Homo sapiens: one gene and its partners. The protein of the gene in region 1 purifies or fractionates together with the protein of each later gene. This does not show direct contact. Each region holds a gene or a part of one and is shown in the gene's direction. Other genes may lie near its edges. The genes, in order: TLE4, PPM1B and ARMC8.

Region 1 (2,868 bases):
CTGCCATTTTAAGAAAGTGCCACGTGGTGGCTCATGCCTGTAATCTCAGGCATAATTTGGGAGGCCAAGGCAAGAGGATCTCTTGAGCCCAGGAGTTCGAGACCAGCCTGGGCAACTTAGTGAGACCCTCTCTCTACAAAAAAAGTTTGAAAATTAGGTGTGATTGGACACATCAGTGTCGTAGTCCCAGCATCTCAGGAGACTGAGGTGGAAGGATTGCTTGAGCTCAGAAGGTCGAGGCTACAGTGAGCCATGGTCACACCACTGCACTGCAGCCTGAGTGACTGAGGGAGACCCTGTCTTATTAAAAAAAAAAAAAAAAAAAAAAAAAAAAAAAAGCAGCAGTACTGTCCATGACCACCTTTCACCTTTCCTTGACTGGGCTTTCTGTTTGGTCAAGGAGCACATTACATTTGCATTTGCTCTAAGTCCTCCATACTCATGGGATTTTCTTTCAGTATTTAACATTTTTGATTATATGTTTCTTTCCTAGTCCAAAGAATCCTCATCGGTGCTTAGCTGTGACATCTCCGTGGACGACAAATACATTGTCACTGGCTCTGGGGATAAGAAGGCCACAGTTTATGAAGTTATTTATTAAAGACAAATCTTCATGCAGACTGGACTTCTCCTCCTGGTAGCACTTTGCTCTGTCATCCTTTTTGTTCACCCCCATCCCCGCATCTAAAACCAAGGATTTCAGATACTCATTGCAGTTGTGGAGTTTAATCCCCTTTCTTAACCTCACTTCCCACTTGCTATTGAATTGTGAATAGTCATTAAAAACCTGTGATACCAAATCTTCAGCTGTCTACTTGGAAGAACATGGAATAAGCATACTTAACAGTGAAAAGAATCTTTAATTATGTATTATATCTGTAATATATTTATTTTGTTTAAAGAAGGCTTTCTAACAATGACTGACTAAATAAAGCTGTCTGCTCCTGCATTGATAATGAAGGTGCGTTGTATTTGATACCCCTCCCCCCCTTTTTTTGGCAAAGGAGGGGAAAGGAAGGTTTAAAATAATTGATTTAAAATGTCACTAAGTGTAGACTGATGACTGTATAGAGATGTGAAATGTATAATTACACATGGAAGCAATATGTTGCTGTGTTGTTATTAGGTTTTTTTTGTTTTTGTTTTCTACATCTTTTAAAGACTTTTGGAAATTTGGCTGAACAATTAGAACACAACAGGCCAACTCATACTCATTTGGATCTATTTAGACAACGTTAACCAATATATCTATAGCTTTAGATTATATTCGATAAAAGTAATTGGACTTTTTTTCTTTTTTTGACTCGTTGACAAGTGTCTTTGTAATATGTTTTTAGTTCCCTTTTTTTGTTGTATTATAGGCAGATGAACAAATTAAATTTGGCCTCAAAGAGAGAACTTACTCCCTTCTGGATATTTTTGCCACATTTCTTTGCAAAAGGAGATATATATATCTTTAGTCAGTTTTGTTGTTATGAGAAATTATGGGTTATTTTGTGGCATGCTCTTTGGGAGCTGCACAGTTATGGGGAGGACTCCCACTGCTGTGCAAGTTAAGTCTTTTACAAAACAAGGACAGCAGAGGAGGGTTTGCAGAGACCTCCCTCTGAAAAACACAAAGAATGGACTCTCTCCTGGGATGAGGACTTGCTTTCTTTACCTCCGGTTCTTTCCATGTCTTAGTTGGATGTCCCTGAAATGGACACAGGCTGTGCCATTGTGCCAGAAACATTGTGTTATCTTTTATGTTGTTGTTGTTGCTGTTAAACTATAATATGTGACTTCTTTTTTTATTATTTTTTGTTTGAATGCTTTAAAAATCTTTTAAGTCTGTGGATCTGCTGATGTACAGTGCCTTTGCTGCTATGGATCAAAATCAAAAGAACCGTGTAGATATACTTTATTGTATAAGTAGAAAATTACTTAATTTCATACTAGAAATGGATGGATGCTGCAAGTTGAAATGGACTGTCCATTGACGTTCCTAATGTGGTAGCAGAAAAAAAAAAATGGTGTCTTAAGTGCTTAGTGTTTGATGTCATTAACAGTTTCGTAAAACTCTACAGTGTAGAAAGATTTTGATACTAAACTGTGCGTTGTACATAGTTCTAATGCATTGTATTGACCACCAGTACTTCTATAATGGTAGATTGTTTGTGAATTCAGACTTTTAAGCATTAAACATAAATAACTTCTAGTATGCTTATTTTTCTAATTCTTTGTCTTGATGACATTAGTTTATTTTTTATCTTTGGCTGTGCCACTCCTATATATTAAAAATGCCTAGTTTTTTCAAGGGAGATTGTTGTTAAAGTAAAGTGGTTTTTTTTGTTGTTAAAGTAATGTGGGTTTTTTTCACTGTTGCTGTTTTTGTTTTGGTTTTGTCTTTACTTGAGAGGAGCTAGAAAAGGTAGGTGATAGAAGTTAACAGTGACCAGTTGGTGCTAAATATTTATTGAGTACCTCTTTGATTTATAAAAATACTGCTTACCAAAAGGTTATCATGTCCCTCAAACCCTTGATGCTTTAGAGCTATGCTGTTCAATATGGTTACCCTAGGCATTTGTGGCTCTTTAAATTTATTAAAGTTAAATAAAACTAGAAATCTAATTTACCAGTCACACAAACTACATTTCAAGTGTCAAGTAGCCACATGTGGCTAATGGCTACCGTATTGGACTAGACACATCAACACGGGCTTTAAGTTAGCCAATGTAAACCATTGCCAGCCATGTGGATTTGGGAAGCATTTCTAGCATAACACACTGAGGTCTTTACACCAGGCTTCTTGGGCTGCTACTGGTTGGGTGTATGAAGATTCAGTATAAAGAGGAGTTTAAATTAAGAATTCTAAAGTGCTGGGACTCA
Region 2 (3,759 bases), on another chromosome or scaffold:
TCAGCCTCCCAAAGTGCTGCGATTACAGGCATGAGCTACTGTGCCCGGCCCAGTATCATCCATTTTTTGCCATGAGGATACTTCCCCGCCCCATCCCCACCACCACCCCGTCTGAGGCAGGAAAACAAGCACTTTTTTTTTCTTTTTCTTTTCTTTTTTTTTTTTTTTTTGAGATAGAGTCTCACTTTGTCACCCAGGCTGGAGTGCAGTGGTGCGATCTCGGGTCACTGCAACCTCCGCCCTCCGAGTTCAAGCGATTCTCCTGCCTCAGCCTCCCGGAGTAGCTGGGATTGCAGGCACTTGCCACTGCGTGCTGCTAATTTTTTGTATTTTTAGTAGAGATAGGGTTTCACCATCTTGGCCAGGCTGGTCTTGAATTCCTGACCTCGTGATCCACCCGCCTCAGCCTAACAAGCCCTTTTTTTTTTTTTTTTTTTTAAGAGGGTCTCACTCTGTCGTTCAGACTGGTGTTCATTGGTATGGTCATGGGTCACTGAAGCCTCAACCTCCTCGACTTAGCTCAACCTCTCGCCTCAGTTCCCCAAGTAGTTGGGACTATGGGCGTGTTCCTTTTAAACATTTTTTGTAGAGATAGGGTCTCATTGTGTTTCCCAGGCTGGCCTAGAACTCCTGACCTCAAGGAATCCTCCTACCCGTCTCCCAAAGTGGTGAAATTGCATACACGAGTCACTGCTCCTGGCCAATGAGGGCAACTTTTTAAAAAATAACATTCATCTGCTCTCATTTTTCTAATAAAACATTGCCATTTATTATATGGCTTTATTAGTGTTATCTTTGTTGCAAAAGTATATGTAATAGTCTCTAAAGATGGTTAAGAGTTTGTGTCACATCAACTGTATCAATAACCTATTTTGTATTTTATTTTCCCAATATTTTAAGATGAAAACTTCCAAATGTATTTAAAAAGGGGATATGATATGTTGGAACAGCTGTATATTGTCTCTCTAGATTCAACAACTGTTAACATTTTGCCATAGTTGCTTTATTTTTCTTTTTATATCTACTGTTTTTTTTCTTTCTTTGACTGAACCCTTTGAGAGAAAATTGCAGACATCATATTTTACCTGTAAACATTTAAGCATGCAGCTCTTAAGAATGAAGATATTTTTCAGCCAGGCACGGTAGCTCACACCTGTAATCCCAGCACTTTGGGAGGCCGATGCAGGCAGATCACCTGAGGTTGGGAGTTCGAGACCAGCCTGACCAACATGGAGAAACCCTGTCTCTACTAAAAATACAAAATTAGCCGGGCATGGTGTCACATGCCTGTAATCCCAGCTACTCGGGAGGCTGAGGCAGGAGAATCGCTTAAATCCTCGAGGTGGAGGTTGTGGTGAGCCGAGAACATGCCATTGCCCTCCAGCCTGGGCAACAAGAGTGAAACTCCATCCCAAAAAAAAAAAAAGAACGAAGACATTTTTCTGTATAACCATAATACCATTATTATACCTAAGAAAATTCATTTTTTTAAATTTATTTTTAATTTTTGTGGGTACACTGTAGGTGTATAAAAAAATAAATTGTATAATATTGAATATCAAGTTTAAATTTCCCTAGTTGTCACTAGAGTGACTATTGTAATTGTTATTTTGAATCCCAGTCTAATCAAGTTTATCAATCAAGCACATTAAACAAGTCTTTAATCAGTCAAGCCCCTCACCTGTTTTTTTCCCCTTGAAACTGACTTTGAAGAATCTGAGCCAGTTTTTTACAATACGTCCTGCATTCTGAATTCATATGATTGTTTTCTCATGTGTGCTCTAACTTGATCCTCTATTCCCTTTTTTCCTGTAAACTGGGAATTAGCATTATTAGATTCATTCTAAACATTTTTTGGCACGAATACAGGACATGACTGTACTTTATAATGCATCATATCAAGAGGCACATACTGTAAAGATATCTTTATTTTAGTCTGTCGGCTTAACTGTGATCAGCTTGGATGATTAGAGCTTGTTCTGTACAGTATTAAGTAGTTACTATTGTAGAAACCTGTAGATTTTCCAAAATTCACTAAAATATGAAAGGATTGAGTAGTTTATTATTCATACTGAGAATACTTAATTTATTTTTATCTAGAGATGTTTTTATCAAAATAAGAGCAAAAAGTAAATACAATTTTTATCCGTAAAAACTCTAAAATCTTTCAAAAATCTGTTTAAATCTATATAGTTTTATGTTTTGTATTTCCTACTTATTTAGCAGAAATGATGAAGAAACTGTTCTGATGGCCTGCTTTTCTGTCCTTTTCCTACTGCTTTAAACATTGATTTTCTTTTGTACTAAATCATATAGCCAAATATTGTTTAAGTAAGTCAGTTTTAGGAAATGCTTGTGTTGCTGTTGAATTATAAAAGCTGAGTAAATTTCAGATTAAACTTTAAATGACTGTGAAATAAGACATAAACTAGTTAATGGTAATTTGCTTAAAATGACTTGAGATTATTATTGGAAGTTTTTATTAATTGATACAGGTAAGAATTGATATTTAATAAAATGTTCTCATGCTTAGACTATATTACTTTTCGGTAGAGAAATTAGTATTTTGCTGTAATGTGTTATGAAATACATGTGATATCCTAGTTTGTCTACTGACACTGGGGTCTTGAATCTTAAAAAAAGGCCTCCGATGAAGCAGAGGAAAGTGGATCACAGGGAAAATTGGTGGAAGCTCTCAGGCAAATGAGAATTAATCATAGGGGAAACTACCGACAACTTCTGGAGGAGATGCTGACTAGTTACAGGCTAGCTAAAGTAGAGGGAGAAGAAAGCCCTGCTGAACCAGCTGCCACAGCTACTTCTTCGAACAGTGATGCTGGAAACCCAGTGACAATGCAGGAAAGCCATACTGAATCAGAAAGTGGTCTTGCTGAATTAGACAGCTCTAATGAAGATGCAGGGACAAAGATGAGTGGTGAAAAAATATGACTTTCCTTTTTGGTAATATTTTTGTGATCTTTGATGGTTTTTAACCTAGGAAGTGTAATGTATGCATTTATATAACTGTTTTGTTATTTGAATCTTGGAAAACTAGTTTTATTATATTCAGATAGCCTTGTTTTTTAAAAAGGCCTTTGCATACACCTTTATGAGATAGTGTAAAATTGACTATTTATAGTACTATGGATTTAATGAAATTATATGTCATTTCACATTGTATGCCAGAAATTAGGCTACCAATTATGAATTAAAGTCAGTAGTTAAATTAATACTAGATAGAATTAGAAATTTTGATTAGAGAGATTATGCTATATTATGGAAAAACTTGTTAATGTAGAATTATACTGCTTCATATTATTTTACCTATTAGTACACTCATAGTTAGCTTTGTAATAAATTTATGTTTTCTTTAATAATTTTAGTTCTTCAAAGAATGGCTGATGCTGGCCTGTAATTTTTCTTTCAAGGATGATAATTTGTGTGTTGTTTGATTTGTTTATATTTTACATCTCTGTAGTTTTATTTTTAGAAGTTGTGAGATATTGGATGTGTGGCTATTTTTCCTTTCTCTGTATTCTTTATGAAACATAACTTTTGAAAAACCTATGTATTATTCATACAGCTTTGGTTTGTATATTCTGTATAGCCTAACTACACACATCAAAATGTATGTCAACCAAGTGTTTAGAATGAAATTATAAGTGTTTAAGTCCAAATAAAGCATGTGATGTGGAATAATCTATGCATGTTGTACTTATTTTTGAATTAATTTTTTAAAAACAACCAAGTTTGGTATAT
Region 3 (3,659 bases), on another chromosome or scaffold:
TTTGAGTTTCAAAAAACCTCATTTGGTAGGCAGTTGTTCATTTGGCTTTTAACTTTGAAAATAAAGCAAACTATTAAGGGTATATCTTTACTCTGTCTTAAGAAGGGCCTAAAATAACCTTCACTGGTATTTGTATTAGTAATGTACTCTACTCTCTGGGTATTAAACTTATGTGTCTGCTCTTCTTTCAGTAGTGGTGTTTTTCCAGTAGAAGTGATGGGTTACATACATTTAACCAGTTGCCTTGTCTGTTTTCCTTCTGGTCATTTTTTCACACTGACACTGTATCTTACCAATACAAAGATACATGAGCAACCCTTAGCTACTGCCTCATGAACGCCCTGAGTTGACCACCCCAGGAAGGCAAATAAAATGTTTTGATGGCCATGAGAGTAAGGAAACAATTTTAAGAACATGTAGCCTATGCATATGCAAATCATTTAACTAGTACGTAGATTATCCCTTCTGTTAGTTTTTCCATTTCATTTCCATCAGAGTAAAACTGTAACAACAATAATCCTTAAAAATGACATCGTAATACCAAACTTGAGTAATAGTTTGTTTTGTCATCTTTATTTTTGATGATGGATTATCCAAAGGTTTCTGACCCGAAAAGTATAGACACTAGACCCGTAAAGAGAAATCTTCACATGTTAATAAATTTGTGATTTTCATGATATGTTAGTTCAAGTCAGTATTATATCTTAATTTATGACTAGAATGTAGTTAAGACTTTAAGAGTAGATACTTTTAGAACTTATCAAAGTGAGTATTCTGTATTGGGAAGTTCTTCCTATAATCCATCAGTGTCTGCTTTGAACAGAAGTTTTGGAACTATTAAGAATTGCCTTCAGAGCCACCCCAAATTATATATATATGTAAAATATATATATTGTCTTTTGCTTTCTGTGGAATTTTTTGTTACCTACGTTATATTACCCAACTGAATTTCTCCATCTTCACACACAGTCAGTGACAACTAAAAGTCTCATCATTGATCAAGCTATACCACTGTCAGTGTTTTCTAGCTAATAATACCAGTTAGCTCTTTAGGAAGTTTCAAAAGAGGGTCTCAGAATGTTATGAACAACACCTACATCATTGGATGAGTGAACCTTTCCAAAGTAACTTCTTTGGGAAAAGTGGTATTCATTTGGATGATTACATTAAGGCTTTTAGTTACGAGGTTATTTATATTATTGGTAGACTTTGTATAGTTACTTGGTCATAGTCAGTCATTGAAAGTATCCTGAAAATATGCTTCTGTTTTATCTTTACAGTAGTTTGGTGATCAAGTTTATAGAAGAGTTGATAATTAGTTATGCATGTTTAAAGATACCATTAATTGCTTCATGCTGATAATTTTGATAATGTTCTTGAAAAAACCCATACCCAACATAAATCTCAGATAACTGTAATAGATAATAATGGTTACCATAGTATACGGTTTGTTAAGCATTTTCACAATGGGTTCTCTGTTTCTAAAAGCTTTTTATTTTATTTATTTTTATTTATTTATTTATTTTTGAGATGTAGTCTCGCTCTGTTGCCCAGGCTAGAGTGCAGTGGCGCGATCTCGGCTCACTACAACCTCTGCCTCCTGGGTTCACACCATTCTCCCGCCTCAGCCTCCCAAGTAGCTGGGACTACAGGCGCCTGCCACCACGCCCAGCTCATTTTTTTGTATTTTTAGTAGAGACAGGGTTTTATCGTGTTAGCCAGGATGGTCTAGATCTCCTGACCTCATGATCCATCTGCCTCGGCCTCCCAAAGTGCTGGGATTACAGGCGTGAGCCACCGCGCCCGGCCTCTAAAAGCTTTTTAAATGCCAAAATTAGGCCAGCACTACTCTTAATGTTTCAGAAAATTAAGGGAACCCTCCTAAAGACATTGTTGCGATTTCATTCAGGTTATCAGCTGTAGTCTGGGGCTAGAGAAGTCCAGGTGTGCCTTCTTTTGAAGGAGAACATTTCAAAGAGCTGCTGCAAGCAAGCATTAGTGCCAGTAAAGCTACCATTTAGGAACACTGAATTTTTCGGAGTCAGAGATTCACAATGGTTTTTCATATATCAGTGTCAAATATAGTGTTCACTTTTAAATGGAAGCATATTGTGTGCATTTTAGGTCACATTGATACGAACACTGCAAAGTCTCAGTGCTATGTGAACAGAATCCAAAAATAACTGGGAAATGTAGTTAATGACTGGGAAATTCACTAAAATCTAAAAGTTGTAAACTTTTTTTTTCTTCAACTCAGTTAATGTTATTGAAAGTTGAATTTATGGACTGAGTTGGAACATATCCTTTTTTTCCCCATAGCTTGATCATGATTTAAAACATGCTCACGAACTCCGCCAGGCTGCATTCAAGCTCTATGCCTCTCTTGGAGCAAATGATGAAGACATCCGGAAGAAGGTGAGTCTGGGAGAGGGGCGTCCCCCAGTCCTGACAGCCAGCAGGCAGGGAGTGACGTCAACCTGAAAGTCGTGGTGAAGAGCACTAACAGTGACTGTTTGAATATAATAAAGCAGAGTGACTAAAGGCATAATTGAAGAATGAATGGGACCCGGATTTGGGGGGTTGTTTGTTTGTTTTTAGAACATAGAGTGGCATGGCCGTGCTGGAATGACAAATAACTGGCGTGCTTTTTTTTTGTGTCATTAATATGAATTATTATGTTGCACATTTTTGCATGTGTTCTGATAAAAATCAATTCTAGCACTGTGAAGCTTCAGACACCTTGAAAGTCCTAACATTAGAATTGTAAATGTTATTTATGGAAATACCTTCCAATGCTATTGAGAAATTCAAATCTCTATTGTATATTGTTCTTTGATATGTGGCTTAGTTTTATGTTTTGATTTTTTTTGCTACTGTGCAAGTTTAATGTGAATAAAATCTTTGTGGAATGATGATTTTATGTTTAGTGAGTGGTCATCTGAATTTTCCAGCTCCCCAGAAAATGTATGCACTGGTATAGCACCCTTATGTTACTAAAGCCTAGTCTAACACTGAACTCATGTTCTTGATGAGAATACTTCTAGATGAGGAGTATAGTGGTAAGTAAGCTCTGACTTGGCTCCTTCCACAAACCAAAAAGCTGGAACTTACCACTCAAAAACATGTATAACCTAATAAATTCTACACAAGGCTTTCAAGACCATCAGAGAGCAAAACCACATGTTCTGTCTTGAGGAGCCATAGCAGAAAGAGCAAATTAGTCATTATTTACTGAACATGATGATTTACTAAATCTCTCCATCTGCATTAGTATTTTAAGGAGCACTGTGAGAGAAATCACAAAGTATTAGAGTTTACCATGATTCAGAGAAGTTCTTCAGGCCTGTAGAAAGAGGAGTATGGAACAACCTTACATTTGTTGAAATAACTTGAAAAGGAACCATTTCTTGAAGAAACTGAAGTAATAGCAATAAGATTTGATGTGTGAGTAGCTTTGATTTAAAATCAATGCAAAAAGCACAACTAATAAATTGAATGTTTCCATGTACCTCACTTTATTTCAGTTAACAAGATACTTTGACTTGAAGTGTTTTTAGTGTATCCCTATGAAAATCATTTTTGGTACATCTAAGTTTTCACTTATAAACTGTTATTTCAAAGCAAACATACTAGTGATATATATATGATTTATGGATGTT

The links.
Region 2: the proteins of TLE4 (region 1) and PPM1B purify together in Homo sapiens (affinity purification with western blotting; one study listed by BioGRID). This does not show direct contact.
Region 3: the proteins of TLE4 (region 1) and ARMC8 purify together in Homo sapiens (affinity purification with mass spectrometry; 2 studies listed by BioGRID and IntAct, with this or other methods). This does not show direct contact.

The regions. Positions count from the first base shown.
Region 1 is NC_000009.12:79,724,544-79,727,411, forward strand, and holds the end of TLE4 (transducin-like enhancer protein 4), read left to right. Parts: intron 1-493; coding exon 494-601; 3' UTR 602-2,339; downstream 2,340-2,868. UniProt on the Homo sapiens protein: Transcriptional corepressor that binds to a number of transcription factors. Inhibits the transcriptional activation mediated by PAX5, and by CTNNB1 and TCF family members in Wnt signaling.
Region 2 is NC_000002.12:44,227,770-44,231,528, forward strand, and holds the end of PPM1B (protein phosphatase 1B), read left to right. Parts: intron 1-2,223; coding exon of another isoform or gene 2,224-2,232; exon of another isoform or gene 2,233-2,643; coding exon 2,644-2,949; 3' UTR 2,950-3,703; downstream 3,704-3,759.
Region 3 is NC_000003.12:138,242,769-138,246,427, forward strand, and holds part of ARMC8 (armadillo repeat-containing protein 8), read left to right. Parts: intron 1-2,319; coding exon 2,320-2,415; coding exon of another isoform or gene 2,416-2,481; exon of another isoform or gene 2,482-3,659. UniProt on the Homo sapiens protein: Component of the CTLH E3 ubiquitin-protein ligase complex that selectively accepts ubiquitin from UBE2H and mediates ubiquitination and subsequent proteasomal degradation of the transcription factor HBP1.